Linked DNA regions of Homo sapiens: region 1 is linked to region 2. A link means that fine-mapping ties the variant in region 2 to the expression of a gene that starts in the linked region. Tissue or cell type: whole blood. Region 2 holds a variant in brackets; the other region holds the start of a gene. All regions are shown on one strand. Distances are between the middles of the regions.

Region 1 (8,102 bases), 66 kb after region 2:
GGGCTATGTTTTATTGTAAAAAGAAAAAACCCAACTCGGGTAAACATGTAAAAAACCCATTTATCAACAGTAACACAGGAAGAGCTAAATAATATTCAAAGTGTCTGTAACTTGAATTGACTAAAACACTGGAGCACTCTCACACTAAAAAATTGCTTAGATCTTGAACTAGTTTGAGGAACAATGTTAGAGATTTATATTAGCAATAATTCACATGAGAACAAACTGGGACTTCCAGTTGGCTGCAAAAAAATAGAATCTTAGCCCTCAAGATGTCCATTTATAAATATTTATTAAGAGCCTGCTATGTTCTAGGCATCTTTCTAGGAGCTCCATAAGGGTAGTAGAACCTTGGTAATAGATTACAAATACAGCAGTTCTATGTTCTGCCTAAGTGTAACCACTTAGTAGTGTGTTGTTCTAAATGTAATTTTTAAAGAGGGCCATTGACAAACCAGTGTGTTGCTAGAAAAAAAAGGCTGGCAAGAGAAAGCTTCAAATAGAAGTCTTCAAATATTTGAAGGGCTGCCCAGTGGAGGAAGATCCTGTTTGCTACACAGGAAGTAAAAAGGGATTTCTAGAATAATGGCTAACTTTTTTTTTTTTTTTTTTTTTGAGACGGAGTCTAGCTGTGTGGCCCAGGCTTCAGTGCAGTGGCACGATCTCTGCTCACTGCAAACTCTGCCTCCAGGGTTTACGCCATTCTGCTGCCTCAGCCTCCAGAGTAGCTGGGACTATAGGTGCCCAGCTAATTTTCTTTTTGTATTTTTAGTAGAGACGGGGTTTCACCGTGTTAGCCAGGACGGTCTCCATATCCTGACCTCGTGATCCGCCCACCTCGGCCTCCCAAAGTGCTGGGATTACAGGCGTTGAGCCACCGCACCCAGCCGGCTAGCATTTGTTGACTGCTTAATATAAGCCAAGGCTCTGTGCTAGGCACTTTACATGCAACATCTCATTGACACAATGGGTAATATTATTGTACCCATTTTACAGAGGAGAAAGCAGGCTTAAAAAGTAACCTGCCCAGGGTTCTGCAAGTAAGGAATGGGGCCAGGAATCTATTCAGGCAGTCTCACTCCAGACGACAAAAGAAAGTTCTAATGATATAGCCATCCAACAAAGCGATCACTACTTGGCAGTAATTTTTTTTTTTTTTTTTTGAGACGGAGTATCACTCTGTTGCCCAGGCTGGAGTGTAGTGGCGTGATCTCGGCCCACTGCAGCCTCCGCCTCTCGGGTTCAAGTGATTCTCCTGCCTCAGCCTCCCAAGTAGAGTAACTGGGATTACAGGTACATGCCACCATGCTCGGCTAATTTTTGTATTTTTAGTAGAGACGGGGTTTCGCCATGTTGGCCAGGCTGGTCTTGAACTCCTGACCTCAGGTGATCCAACTGCCTCGGCCTTCCAAAGTGCTGGGATTACAGGCATGAGCCACCGCGACTGGCTTGGCAGTAACTTTTGAGGAATAAAGAATACAGAAGGAGTTTCCTCAAATCTTGTTGCCCTTCCCATCTTTGTGAGCTGAGATCAGAGTACCGTATCTCACCCTCTGCCTCTTGGAGGTGATTATGGTTTACATATAAATGCAGATTGCAAGTCCAGGAAGTTTACTCTCTCTCCTCCTGTAGGCCTCATCCTGTAAGACACTTCCTCTAACAAATGGGCATCCCTTCCTGTTGTCCACTTACTGCTTATCACCACCAGGTGGCACCTGGGCAGCAGAATTGTCAGTGGGCGGGGACCCACCCTGTTTACTTGTGTTGGTAACTGCATTGCAGCTGCTGATCCTGTGGCTCCTGGGCCCCAGCTGGGACAAGAACTTCCTGAGGATGAAGTTTTATCCCCTATATAATTTCTGATGATCTGGATGAGGTGAGGAAGGGAGAAGTTTGGAAAAGAACCTCCATAGGTCACCCTCTCCATTCCCCCATTCTCAGGAACCTCCTTGCCTACTCCAGTGCTTGGCAAATTTCAGTTTATAGAGAGGTTTCTCTCTAAGGTTCATCCATGTTCCTTCTGTAGTTCTGCTTTATCAGTTGGTGAGCAGGTCACTCATAATTCCTCCAATTTCCTTGTTTCCCTTTTCTACCTGCTTACCTCTGGGAATATGGAGGATATAGGAGACAGAATATTGTTTCTTAAATAGTTCTGCAAACTGAATGAAGCAGTCAAGATACTGCTAGCCCTAGGGAAGTAGAGAAAAGGAAGTGAAAAAATTTAAGTGATAGAGGCTGAGCAGGGACAGGTTTTAAGCAGCTTTGGTAAACACAGGCTGATGAAATCTATGCCCTGCAGAACCAGATAAAATTTATCAGCTGCAGGCCTCATCCTGTAAGACACTTCCTCTAAGAAATGGCTAGTTTCTTCCCAGTGATCAACCCCAGTTCTTCTGCTGCATCTGACAGATTTACATAATATGCCCCATATATACTGCATTAAAAGGTAATCATCTTATGACCAACACTTCCCTCATCAACTTCCAATTAGTCTAGTTCCTAGATCCTAGGACAACACTCCACCTCTAACGCCAGTTAACTAGTAACAATAGTCATCGGTGTACCCTGCACTTTTTCCTTCCTAAACCTACACCGTACACTGTGGGACTGCACTAGTTCTGCACCTGACTGTATGGCAAACCTTCCTTCTAACTCAGGCAAATGTGAAAAGGAATTGTCTTTCCCTTACTCTTGATCCCTCATTTTAGTGTCCTAGAAGTTCTTCAGGGTCAGAAAATTATTGGAAAATGTAATAATTTGCGCTGCCTCCCTCCCTTTTGGAGCCAACTAGTCTTACATCCATCCTCTAAGATAGAGATGACTTACTAACTCTTGGAAATTTCCAAAAAGAAATAAAGCCTCACTTTCTATTCACTCTGCTTTTTTTCCCCCTTTCCCTGAAGGCTGGATTATCTCAACTCTGTAATTCTCTGACTCTCCAGTTTTCTCCAGGGTCAGTCGTTACACCACACAAAGAAGGTAGGGGATTAGGGACGGGATAGACGGGGTTAGTTTTCAAACACTTTCATTCCAAATACGATCGTATCCTTTCCTTTTGTAAGGGCAGGCAGGAAAAAGTTGAAGGATAAGGAATGTGCTTAGAGTATGAAAACTAGAGAAAGTCGGCAAAAGAACATATATATATATCCCAGACCAAATCCTGCCAAACCGAATGAGTAGAGGGAAATCCTGAAGCTCCACAACCCCTCAACTTCGCAACTTGGGCTTTCTCCAAAACCAAGAAATTGGCGGTGCAGCTCTGCATGACGTCATACCACAGGCACTCCAATCCCACGTGGGGGAGCTCTTGGTCCCGCCTCTCCTGAAATGGTGCGCCACGCCTCCTCCTCTTTATTACCAATCGAATGCCGCCCCTGAGCCCCTTTCTTCCTTTTCCCGCCATCTCAGACCTCCCATCTTGGCCTTCGGGCCCAATCAGGGAGGCCCTACCTATCCGAAACCCGGTCCGTTCCCCGCGGAAGAGGGGTGGAGTTTCAACCTTTTAACTCCACCTTGGTCTGTGCAGCGCGGACCAACCCAAATCGCCAGAAAGGAGGGGCGTGGCTTGAAGTCCCCTCCTCCATCCCGGGGATCACGTTTTGCCTGGGGGAGCTGATCGCAAGACTAGGCAACCTCCAGCCAGTCCCTGGGTCGGGCGGATCCTCCCAGAGGTGGCACAATGGAGCGATCTCCAGGAGAGGGCCCCAGCCCCAGCCCCATGGACCAGCCCTCTGCTCCCTCCGACCCCACTGACCAGCCCCCCGCTGCTCACGCAAAGCCAGACCCAGGTTCTGGGGGCCAACCTGCTGGCCCTGGCGCGGCGGGTGAGGCCCTGGCGGTGCTGACTTCATTCGGGAGGCGGTTGCTGGTGCTGATACCTGTGTATTTGGCCGGGGCAGTGGGACTCAGCGTGGGTTTCGTGCTCTTCGGCCTCGCCCTCTACCTGGGCTGGCGCCGGGTCCGCGACGAGAAAGAACGGAGCCTTCGAGCAGCGAGGCAGCTACTGGACGACGAGGAGCAGCTCACTGCGAAAACTCTCTATATGAGTCATCGAGAGCTACCTGCCTGGGTGAGCGACCACCCTCGGTCCTCTGTGCAGCATAGCCCCCTTCCACCCCTTCCATCTGGGGCTTTTCCTCCTTATGCCTAGAGTCAGCTCCCTGCCTTGGGACAGTGGGCCCCAGACTTTCCCCTCTCTCCCCGCTAGCCGCCTGCCTGCTGGACGCGCCACTCTTGGAACCGACTGCTCACTCTCCCCACCCACCCTTTCGCATGCCCAGACTGGATCCTTCCACAGAATCAGGACTTCTTCCTCTACTTGGGCAACAGCAGTAATAACATCTGGGGACCCCGTCTCAGCCGAAGCTCTCCCTCCTAGCCAAGCCATCTTGAACGTCCCTCTTGCTTTTGGTGCCACTCGCGGCTTTGCTGCTCCTGGAAATCCTGGTCCCGTTACCTCTCAAAGGTTTCCCTAGTCTTTCCCATCCTCCTCGAGACTTTTTACCTACTTAAAGCCATACGGTTCTCTCTTTTCTCGCTTTTATCCCCGGGTACCCGCTAGGACCCAGCCCCGGCCCCTGGACGACCCTCGGGCAGCCACCTTCAAGCCTCCAGCCGCCAGACTGCAGCGCGGCAGAGGCGGCTGCTGGACGGAGGGAGGGCTACGGGAGGAGGTGGTGCGGCTGCTGCAGTGCCCGCGGCGCACACTCCCCCGCACTCCTCGGCCGGCCACACCCTTTTCCGGACTGTGGGCTGCGCTTGTTCCGTTGGGGCAGAGACCCTTATTTCTGCGGCGGCCGCGTCTCCTGTGCTGAGGCGGATGCCTTCTCTCTAGTCTTGCAGAGGCGAAGCCGGTTACCCGGCCCCTCCCAGCAGAGGTGCCAGTCTAGGGGGAGAATGGCAGCAGAGAGGAATCAAAATTGACACTAGACAGACACAGCCAAGCTTCCCAGGCCCTGGACTGGAAAGGGGAGGAGAAAGAGGGCCAAATGGCTCTAGGGGACCTGTAGCCTAGGCAGCAAGTGTTTGTCTCCTCCTCATCATCATGGAAACCAATCTTCCTACCCCCAATACAAAGCGCAGGTGTCCTTTCCCTTAAAAGGAGTCACACAGAGAAAGATAGAGGAAAACACACACACACACCCCAAAAAACCCACAAAGCCAGGCCTAATTAGGTCTTCTGGCCCCTCCCTGACTCAAGGAAGGACTTGCTTCCCTCTTCACCTTCCTGCTCTAGAAGCCCCGTCTGAGGGGAGTTGAGAAGGCTGGAAAAGGGGACTTTTTTTTTTTTCTTTTTTGAGACGGAGTCTCGCTCTGTTGCCAAGCTGGAGTGCAGTGGCCCGAACTTGGCACACTGCAACCTCTGCCTCTTCAAGCGATTCTCCTGCCTCAGCCTCCTGGGTAGCTGGGATTACAGTCACGCGCCACCACGCCCGGCTAATTTTGTATTTTTAGTAGAGACAGGGTTTCACCATGCTGGTCAGGCTGGTGTCGAACTCCTGACCTCGTGATCCGCCGGCCTCGGCCTCCCAAAGTGCTGGGATTACAGATGCGAGCCACCGCGGCCAGCCTGGAACCAGGACTTTTTAAATCCCAGGATTCCCTCAAACTCCAATTTGACTGGACCTCCCCCTCCAGAAAGAATGCGCCCTTCTCCTCCTCCCGCTCCTCTCTCTCTCAGCAGCTGTCATTTCACCACGTCCCTGAGCTATCCACAGGGCAACAGCGTGACCTCTACCTTGTCAGCTCCCCTTATTAGAGAGACATCAGCCCCCAAACTCTGTGAGGAATGAACCTTTGGGGCATCCTCGCCCCTCGCCCACCCTGAGTGTGAGGAGTCACACACACTCCCTCTCCTCTGTGGCACACCACCAGCATCTTAGTAGGAAACCAGAGGCGAGGGTGTGCTGCACGTCACTGTCTCTGCCTTCCCCACCTCCAGGTCAGCTTCCCAGACGTGGAAAAGGCTGAATGGCTCAATAAGGTGAGGATTGATTTGATTTTTAGTCTTCATGAGGGGAGAATGGGAATTTGTTTCTTCTTGCCAGACCCATCCTCAACCCTCAGTGCTCTCCGTGGGGAGGATTCTGAAGGAACTTGCCTTGAGAGGGAAGACTGGACTCTCCTCTGACCATCTCTCTTTCCTCCCAGATTGTGGCCCAGGTCTGGCCCTTCCTGGGCCAGTATATGGAGAAGCTTCTGGCTGAAACTGTGGCTCCGGCTGTTAGGGGATCTAACCCCCATCTGCAAACATTTACATTTACACGAGTGGAACTGGGTGAAAAGGTATGTGTGGAGGAGGGAAAGTGAGGAGGTAGGCTAGGGAGGGTGAGTGGCCCGGAGTAGACTCAGGTACTTCTCCCTATCCCTGCCCTCTCTCAGGAATTTCTCTCTCCCTAGCCATTGCGCATCATTGGAGTCAAGGTTCACCCAGGTCAGAGAAAAGAGCAGATCCTGCTGGACTTGAACATCAGGTAATACCACTCACCACTCTTACTGCTTCCCCTTCAATGTGTCCTGTTCAGTCCAGGCTACTTCACTCCCCCTCCCCGCAACTTCAGCCAAGGACTAACTCTCTTGGTTCTCTTCTTCACCAATCCCCAGCTATGTAGGTGATGTGCAGATTGATGTGGAAGTGAAGAAATATTTTTGCAAAGCAGGAGTCAAGGGCATGCAGGTAGGCCAGATGTCAGGGGCCACATAATAGGGAATGTTTGTCCTGCGTTTCATGGGATATGGGGAAGTGTGAGGTTGGAAAGACCAAGGCTGAGAAAGTCTGGGAGGACAGAAGAGGGACTTTTCTGGGGAAAGGCTTTGATTTTCTCTTCTTGCCTCAGCTACATGGCGTTTTGCGGGTGATACTGGAGCCACTCATTGGGGACCTTCCCTTCGTGGGGGCTGTGTCAATGTTCTTCATCCGACGCCCGGTAAGGGAAAACAATGAAGGGGTATGGGGAAGCAGGAGAAACAGAGGACTGGGAGGATGAGGGCAGCCAGTGAAGGGGAATGAGAAGGGAACTGACAAGAAGGCCGAGGGGTTCTGGCAACTGTTTGATGGGTATGACCACACCCCATAGGATCTGTCCTGACCCCTGCTCTTTCCCTCCAGACCCTAGACATCAACTGGACAGGGATGACCAACCTGCTGGATATCCCAGGACTTAGGTATCAAGGACTTACTGAGCACCTGCTGAGTGTTCCAGCGCTGGGTTGGGGGTTTAAGGGACACAGAGCAGTCAAAGATGCTGCTTGTGTCCTCTAGGAGCCTCAACTTCATTTGGGGAGCAAAGACAAATACCCCTGCAAAGTTTGATACTGTGATTTTTCTTTGGGTTGGGGGAGCAGGAAGGGAATGCAGAGGGCTGAAGACTGCAAAAGGCAATGGGGATGGCAGTGAAGAAGGGAGAGAGCAGTAGGTGGGGAATTAGGGTAGAAGAGTAGCACAAAGGATTTTCACAAAAGGACTTTCTTACAGCTTTAGGTCTCTCTTGGGTGTGGGAAACATAGTTGGGGTTAGGAGAAAATTGGAAGTTGAGGCCATACCCACTCCTTTCTACTCCCCCATTCAGCTCACTCTCTGACACCATGATCATGGACTCCATTGCTGCCTTCCTCGTGTTGCCCAACCGATTACTGGTGCCCCTTGTGCCTGACCTTCAAGATGTGGCTCAGTTGCGTTCCCCTCTGCCCAGGGTATGGCCTTTCCCCCACTAGATAGATCCTTCTCTCAGGAACCCCTTGCTGGGTCCTTAGTTTCTCACCATCTGATTCCTTCCTCCAGGGCATTATTCGAATTCACCTGCTGGCTGCTCGAGGGCTGAGTTCCAAGGACAAATATGTGAAGGGCCTGATTGAGGGCAAGTCAGACCCATATGCACTTGTGCGTTTGGGTACCCAGACATTCTGCAGTCGTGTCATTGATGAAGAACTCAACCCACAGTGGGGAGAGACTTATGAGGTGGGAGAGTTGAGCAGCTCTGTGAAATGGGGAAGCCCCAGGAGGTTGTGAGAGAAGATGCTGATTGGATGATCCTCACAGCTGCAGCCCCATGAGACACTCAGCCTTCTGTGTTCCCCAGGTGATGGTACACGAGGTCCCAGGG
Region 2 (8,102 bases):
CTAATTTTTATATTTTTAGTAGAGACAGGGTTCACCATCTTGGCCAGGCTGGTCTTGAACTCCTGACCTTAGATGATCCGCCTGCCTTGGCCTCAACTTAGACCTTAGCATCACCAAAAACTGTACCATCTTAGAAATTTCAACCCCAAATCTCCAATAATCTCCTTTTAGCTCACTTACTCAACCATGCCACCTCAACAATTTGTGTCCTTCACGTTCACTGCAATCCATTGATCTTACCATTTCCCCAGCATCCAGCAGTCTCCACATATTTCTTCAAGAATCTTGGTTTCTTTAATGAGAAATGATAATTAGAGTTGGGCATAGTGGCTCACACCTGTAATCCCTGTGACTTGGAAGACTGAGGCAAGATGATCACTTGAGTCCAGGAGTTTGAGACCAGACTGGGGAAAAATAGTGCCCAATGGTCTCCACAAAAATAAAAAACTTGGCTGGGGGGCTGGGTGTGGTGGCTCACACCTGTAATCCCAGCAATTTGGGAGGCTGAGGAGGGTGGATCACCTGAGGTCAGGAGTTCGAGATCAACCTAGCCAACATGGTGAAACCCCATCTCTACTAAAAATACAAAAATTATCTGGGCATGGTGACGGGTGCCTGTAATCCCAGCTACTCGGGAGGCCGAGGCAGGAGAATCACTTGAACCTGGGAGGCAGAGGTTACGGTGAGCTGAGATGATGCTGTTGCTCTCCAGCCTGGGGGACAATAGTGAAACTCTATCTCAAAAAAATAAAAAGTGAAAAAAAACTTGGTAGGGTGCTGTGGCATGTACCCATAGTTCCAGCTACTTGGGAGGATGAGGCAGGAGGATTGCTGCAGTAAGCTATGATTGGGTCACTGCACTCCTGCCTGAACAACAGAGTGAGACTCAACTGTAAAAGAAAAAAAAAGGTCATTAGAGACTACCATCTCTGCACCAGGATGCTCATTACTATTGAAGATGCTCATTACTATTGGGTTTGTCAAATTTGGGACTACAAAACTACAAAAAGTCTGTGTTTTCTTTCTTCCATCAAGAGTCATGGTTCTTACGGACACAGAAATGGGAGAATTAGAACATTCCATAATTCCTTATTTGTTTTATCCTACACAATACATTAAACAGTCTCAGAATAACTAGTAGTACTACCTTCGTCATTATGATTACTAAAAACATATTTAAACTTTTTTTGTAAATGCTATTTCCTTTCTCCTTATTTTTTATGGTTATAATGTCTACATTATCAGATCATATGGCCATTACATACTATACTCTCTCTTTTACCTTCATTAGTCTCATTTCCATGAGTAACTAATATACAGTACTGACTCTCAGCCCTTCTGTTGACATCTCTCTAGTTGTCTGAAGTGCACTCTCTAGTGGATTTCTCAGGAAGGGGTCGTGGGAAAAATAATCCCTGAGTCCCTACATATTGATAACAATTTGTCTGTGCCCATTATCGTTGAAGATTAGCTTTGCTTTGGCTCACCTGTTCTTCCTTTTTATTTATTTATTTATTATTATTATGTTTTGAGATGGAGTCCCGCTCTGTCGCCCAGGCTGGAGTGCAGTGGTGCAATCTTGGCTCACTGCAAGCTCCGCTTCCCGGGTTCAAGCGATTCTCCTGCCTCAGCCACCCAAGTAGCTGGGATTACAGGCACACGCCACCATGCCTGGCTATTTCATATATATATATATTTTTAGTAGAGATGGGATTTCACCATGTTGGCCAAGCTGGTCTCCAACTCCTGACCTCAGGCGATCCGCCCACCTCAGCCTCCCAAAATGCTGGGATTACAAGGCGTTGAGTCACCACGCCTGGCTTGTTATTCCTTAAATATTTAAAATATGTCAGCTAGGTGCGGTGGCGCATGCCTATAATCCCAGCACTTTGGGAGGCCAAGGCAGGCGAATCACTTTGACATCAGGAGTTTGAGACCAGCCTGGCCAATGTGGTGAAACCCCATCTCTACCAAAAAAAAAAAACACAAAAACCCACAAATACTAGCCAGGTATGGTGGCAGTTGCCTGCAATCTTTTTCAAATTACAATATTTGTCATTTTGGACTAATGAGATCACTTAATCACTTTGGATCACTTGAGGTCAGGAGTTCAAGATCAGCCTGGCCAACATGGCGAAACCCCATCTCTACCAATAATGCATAAATTAGCCAGGTGTGGTGGTGCATGCCTGTAATCCCAGCTACTCGGGAGGCTGAGGCATGAGAATCGCTTGAATCTGGGAGGTGGAGGTTGCAGTGAGCCAAGATTGCACCACAGCACTTCAGCCTGGGCAACAGAGACTGTCTCAAAAAAAATTATTTATTTCTTCATTTATTTATTTATTTTAGAGATGAGGTCTCACTCTATTGCCCTGGCTGGAGTACAGGTGCAAGCCACAGTGCCTAGCTTCTTTCATGTCTCTCTCTTTTTTTTTTTTTTGAGATGGAGTCTCGCTCTGAAATGCTGGAGTGCAGTGGCATCGTCTCAACTCACTGCAACCTCCACCTCCCAGGTTCAAGTGATTCTCCTGCCTCAGCCTCCCGAGTAGCTGGGACTACAGGTGCACGCCGCCATGCCTGGCTAATTTTTGTATTTTTAGTAGAGATGGGGTTTTGCCATGTTGGCCAGGCTGGTCTCAAACTGCTGTAATTCGCCTGCCTCAGACTCCCAAAGTGCTGGGATTACAGGCATGAGCCATAGCACCCGACTTTATATCACCTTCTTAATGTCTTTTAGCTCATTTTAAAATAAAATGTTATGATTTTCGTCTGTTTTGGGAGCATCTCTCTGGCATGAATCTTTTTCTGTCCTCATTATCTGTTTTCTTTTTCTTTTTTTTTTTTAACCTACCTATTCTCAATTCTCTTTTCTTTTTTTTTAACTTTTTTTTGAGACTAAGTCTCACTCTTGTCCCCAGGCTGGAGTGTAATAGCACGATCTCAGCTCACTGCAACCTCCGTCTCCCAGGTTCAAGCCATTCTCCTGCCTCAGCCTCCCGAGTAGCTGGGATTACAGGCGCCTGCCACCATGCCTGGCTAATTTTTGTATTTTTAGTAAAGACGAGGTTTCACCATATTGGCCAGGTTGGTCTCGAACTCCTGACGACCTCAGGTGATCCGCCCACTTCAGCTTCCCAAAGTGCTGGGATTACAGGCGTGAGCCACTGCGCCCGGCCTCAATTCTCTTTTTCCTTATAGTAACTTTGTGTGGAATTTAACACGATACTCTTCTGTTGCTCACATTTATGTAAATTTAATTTTTCTGAAAGATTTCTTCAGATGGCTTTCCTATGTAGACTGAGCTCCTTCTTCTGTCTGTCGTTTTCTGGTAGTGTTCAAAAACATGATGTCTTGCTCTCTGAGGCTCTCTACCTCTACCCCACTTTTGTCCAAACCTCCTCTTTCTTTGTCTTTATTGTCCATGTCCTACTAAGTTTTTGGGATTTTTGTTTTTTTTTTTAAGACAGTGTCTCATTCTGTCTCCCAGGCTCACTGCAGCTTTCGCCTCCCAGGTTGAAGCAATTCTCCTGCCTCAGCCTCTTGAGTAGCTGGGATTACAGGTGTGCAACATCACGCCTGGCTAATTTTTGTATTTTTTGAGAGATGGAATTTCGCCATATTGGCCAGGCTGGTTTCAAACTCCTGACCTCAAGTGATCTGCCCTCCTTGGCCTCCCAATGTACTAGGATTATAGGTGTGAGCCACTGCATCCAGCCCATGTCCTACTAAGTTGTTTTGTTTTGTTTTGTTTTCTTTAGATGGAGTCTCGCTTAGCTGCCCAGGCTGGAGTGCAGTGGTGTGATCTTGACTCACTGCAGCCTTGAATTCCCAAGCTCAGGTGATCTTCCCACATCGGCCTCCCAAGTAGCTGGGACTACAGGCGTGAGCCACTGTGCCCGGCAAGGAGGGGATTATTAACTGAGTCACTCGAAGAACAATGAGAGGACACAGAGATGTTTAGTTGGAGAAAAGAAATGTAAGGGGAGCCACACATGGTGTCATGCACCTGTAGTCCCAGCTACCCAGGAGGCTGAAGCAGAGGGAGGGGGATCCCTTGAGTCCAGGAGTTCGAGGTCAGCTTGGGCAACATAGCAAGACCCCGTCTCTAAAAATTAAAAATAAAAATATTTTAAAGGCTGGGCACAGTGGCTTACACCTGTAATACCACTACTTTGGGAGGCCAAGGCAGGCAGATCCTCTTGAGC[C/T]CAAGAGTCTGAGAACAGCCTTGGCAACATAGAGAAACCCCATCTCTACAAAACACCTAAAAATTAGCCAAGCATGGTGGTGCACACCCGTAGTCCCACCTACTCGAGAAGCTGAAGTGGGAGGATCACTTGGGCCTAGGAGGTTGAGGCTGCAGTGAGCTATGATTGTGCCACTGTACCCCAGCCTAGGTGACAGAGCAAGACCTTGTCTCAAAATAAAATAAAATAAAACAAAATTAAATTAAATTAAAAAGAAAACTAAAGGGGAAAAGAGAGACATTTTCAAAGATCTGAAGGATTGTTATATACAAGAGGGATTAACCAGAGGTTAGAATTAGACTTGCTTGGTAGAAGTTATAGAGAAACACAACTGGTCTAAAATTTTTCTTCCTTCTTCCTTCTTTCCTTTCCAATTATTTTATTTTTGATCACATAAAACATGAAAAAAATATAAAAAGTACAAAAGAATGTATAGTAAAGTCTTGCATTCAGTTCCTCTTCCTAGAGCCAGTTTCTTGTGTATCCTTCAAGATACATTTTAAGCATATATAAACATTTTTTTATTCTTTAAAAAGAATTTAATATGCTTTTAGATAATGAAAATATTTCTTATTCTTGTAGCAGCAGTCTTGCAATGACTGTCTCAGGCATTTCCTGTCCTGGAGCTATTCAGGGGAAATAGACAAGAAATCATCTGAGGTATATTTTTTTCTCTCTTGCAAATTATTTGTTGAAAAAACTGGATTGTACCTCCTTCCCTGTTCCAGGTGAAAAAGAAGAAAAAAAGAAAAAAAAAATGGATTGTTGTCCTATAGAATTTCCTGCATTCTGGATTTTGCTGATCATGTGGCATCTTTCCTCTGTCCTATGGATTTTTTGTAAATTGGTATTGGATTGAAAGGTTTGATCAAATTCAGATTTGATTATTTTGGTAAGACTACTTCATAGACAGTGGCGAGTTTTTTTGTTTGTTTGTTTTGTTTTGTTTTTTGAGATGGAGTCTTGCTCTGTCACCCAGGCTAGAGTGCAATGGCACGATCTCGGCTCACTGCGATATCCACCTCCTGGGCTCAAGTCATTCTCCTGCCTCAGCCTCCTGAGTAGCTGGGATTACAGGCGCCCGCCACCATGCCTGGCTATTTTTTGTATTTTTAGTAGAGATGAGGTTTCACCATGTTGGCCAGGCTGGTCTCGAACTCCTGACCTCGTGATCCGCCCACCTCGGCCTCCCAAAGGGCTGGGATTACGAACGTGAATCACTGCGCCCAGCCAGTGAGTTCTTCCATCAGGAGACACATAATATCCGGTATCTCTTTTTGTGATGGTCACAACTCCGGATGCTCAAAGCCTAAATCTATAAACTCATCAGAAGTGGACAAATGGTTGGCTGGTTGGGGTGGCTCACACCTGTAATCCCAGCACTTTGGGAGGCCCAGACGGATGGATCACCTGAGGCCAGGAGTTCAAGACCAGCCTGGGAAAAAAAGTGAGACCCCCATCTTTACAAAAAATAAAAAATTCAGCCTGTTTGTCGCAGCTACTTGGAAGGCTGAGATGGGAGGATCACTTCAGTCCGGGAGGTCTAGGCTGCAGCAAGCTGTGATTTTACAAAAATTAAAAAATATAGGCCGGGCACGGTGGCTCACGCCTGTAATCCCAGCACTTTGGGAGGCCGAGGCGGGCGGATCACCTGAGGTCGGAAGTTTGAGATCTGCCTAACTTGGAGAAACCCCGTCTCTACTAAAAACACAAAAATTAGGGTGTGATGGCGCGCGCCTGTAATCCCAGCTGCTCAGGAGGCCGAGGCAGGAGAATCTCTTGAACCTGGGAGGTGGAGGTTGCGGTGAGCCGACATCACGCCAAAAAAAAAAAAAAATGGCACAAGAAGTATGCTGAGGAAACAGGCGGATGGTGGTATTCTCTCATTACTCTCTTTTGTTTTTCTTCTATTTCTTTTATCTCTGCTTTGGTCTTTATTATTTCCTTCCTTCTACCACTTTTGAGTTTAGTTTGCTCGTCTTTTTCTAGTTTGAGATATAAAGTTGGATTACTGATTTGAGATATTTCATTTGTTTTATTTATTATTATTATTATTATTATTATTATTATTATTATTATTGAGACGGAGTTTCGCTCTTGTTGCCCAGGCTGGAGTGCAATGGCATGATCTCAGCTCACCACAAGCTCCGCCTCCCAGGTTGAAGCTATTCTCCTGCCTCAACCTCCCGAGTAGCTGGGATTACAGACATGTGCCACCAAGCCTGGCTAACTTTTTGTTGTTGTTGTTTGTTTTTTGAGACAGAGTTTCCCTCTTGTTACCAAGTCTGGTGTGCAATGGCGTGATCTCGGCTCACCACAACCTCTGCCTCCCGGGTTCAAGCGATTCTCCTGTCTCAGCCTCCCAAGCAGCTGGGATTACAGACATGTGCCACCAGGCCTGGCTAATTTTGTATTTTTAGTAGAGATGGGGTTTCTCCGTTTTGGTCAAGCTGGTCTCGAACTCCCGACCTCAGGTGATCCGCCCGCCTCGGTCTCCCAAAGTGCTGGGATTACAGGCGTAAGCCACCGCACCTGGCCTATTTCTTCTTTTGGAAAGTTGGCATTTACAGCTACAAATTTTCCTCTGAGCACTGCTTTTACTGCATCCAGTAAGTTTTGATATGTTGTGATTTCATTTGCATTCATCTCAAAGTATTTTCTAATATTCTTTGTGATTTCTTCTTTGACCCACTGGCTTTCAACAGATTGAAAACAGAAAACCAAAAGTTTGGTTATTTGAAAAAAAATCAATAAAATTAGCAAACACTTAGCTAAGAAAAAAGAACACAAATAATTAAAATCAGAAATAAAAATGAGGCTGGGCATGGTGGCTCACACCTGTAATCCCAGCACTTTGGGAGGCCAAGGCGGGTGGATCACAAGGTCAAGAGATTGAGACCATCCTGGCCAACATGGTGAAACCCCGTCTCTACTAAAAATACGAAAATTAGCTGGGTGTGGTGGCACGTGCCTGTAATCTCAGCTACTCAGGAGGCTGAGGCAGGAAAATCGCTTGAACCTGGGAGGTGGAGGTTGCGGTGGGCCCGGATTACACCACTGCACTCCAGCCTGGCAACAGAGTGCGACTCCGTCTCAAAAAAAAAAAAAAAAGAAAAAGAAATAAAAATGAAGCCTGGGCATGGTGGCTCACGCCTGTAATCCTAACAATATGAGAGGTGAAGGCAGGAGGATCATTTGAGCTCAGGAGTTGGAGTTCAGCGTGCACAACATAGTGAGACCTTGTCTCTATACTATAAAAATAAAAAATAGACCAGGCGCGGTGGCTCATGCCTGTAATCCCAGCACTTTGGGAGGCCAGGGCGGGCGGATTCCAGCTACTGGGGAGGCTGAGGCAGGAGAATCGCTAGAACCTGGGAGGCAGAGGTTTCGGTGAGCCATGATCACACCATTGCACTCCAGCCTGGGCAACAACAGCGAAAATCCATCTCAAAAATAAAATAAAATAAAAAATAATAAAAATAAATAAATAAAAATGAAGACATTACTACCAACCATACAGAAATAGAAGGGACTATAGGAAAATACTATGAGTATTCAAACGAAACCCTGGTTTCAACACTCCAGTATGCCCTCACCTAGTGCCATGGGGGTGATGCTGCCACCCCAGTGACTCTGGAAGGTGAAGCATCAAGCCAAAAAGGATTATTTTCTTTTTCTTTCTTTTCTTTTTATTTTTTTTGAGACAGAGTCTCACTCTGTCGCCCAGCCTGGAGTGCAGTGGCACGATCTCGGCTCATTGCAAGCTCCGCCTCCCGGGTTCATGCCATTCTCCTGCCTCAGCCTCCCGAGTAGCTGGGACTAAAGGTGCCCGCCACCATGCCTGGCTGATTTTTTTGT

Evidence for each region. PIP is the estimated chance that this variant, and not a neighbour inherited with it, causes the effect.
Region 1: ESYT1 starts here. The variant in region 2 is fine-mapped to the expression of ESYT1 in whole blood (TOPMed, PIP above 0.99).

The regions. Positions count from the first base shown.
Region 1 is chr12:56,124,641-56,132,742 of GRCh38, forward strand. It overlaps ESYT1 (extended synaptotagmin 1), which reads left to right and starts at 3,627. Exons shown (of 31, transcript NM_015292.3): 1 at 3,627-4,069; 2 at 5,942-5,983; 3 at 6,151-6,285; 4 at 6,400-6,473; 5 at 6,604-6,676; 6 at 6,837-6,926; 7 at 7,109-7,164; 8 at 7,569-7,692; 9 at 7,781-7,957; 10 at 8,079-8,102. The coding sequence starts at 3,680. ZC3H10 (zinc finger CCCH-type containing 10) reads left to right here. Exons shown (of 3, transcript NM_032786.3): 3 at 1-2,874. RefSeq lists enhancers at 1,600-1,859, 3,299-3,960, 3,766-4,015, 4,336-4,435, 4,616-4,675 and a silencer at 3,496-3,565.
Region 2 is chr12:56,058,343-56,066,444 of GRCh38, forward strand. No RefSeq gene overlaps it. Among named protein-coding and RNA genes, the nearest start is that of ERBB3, 18 kb to the right of the region's middle. The variant C/T (reference allele first, on the strand shown) is at 4,206.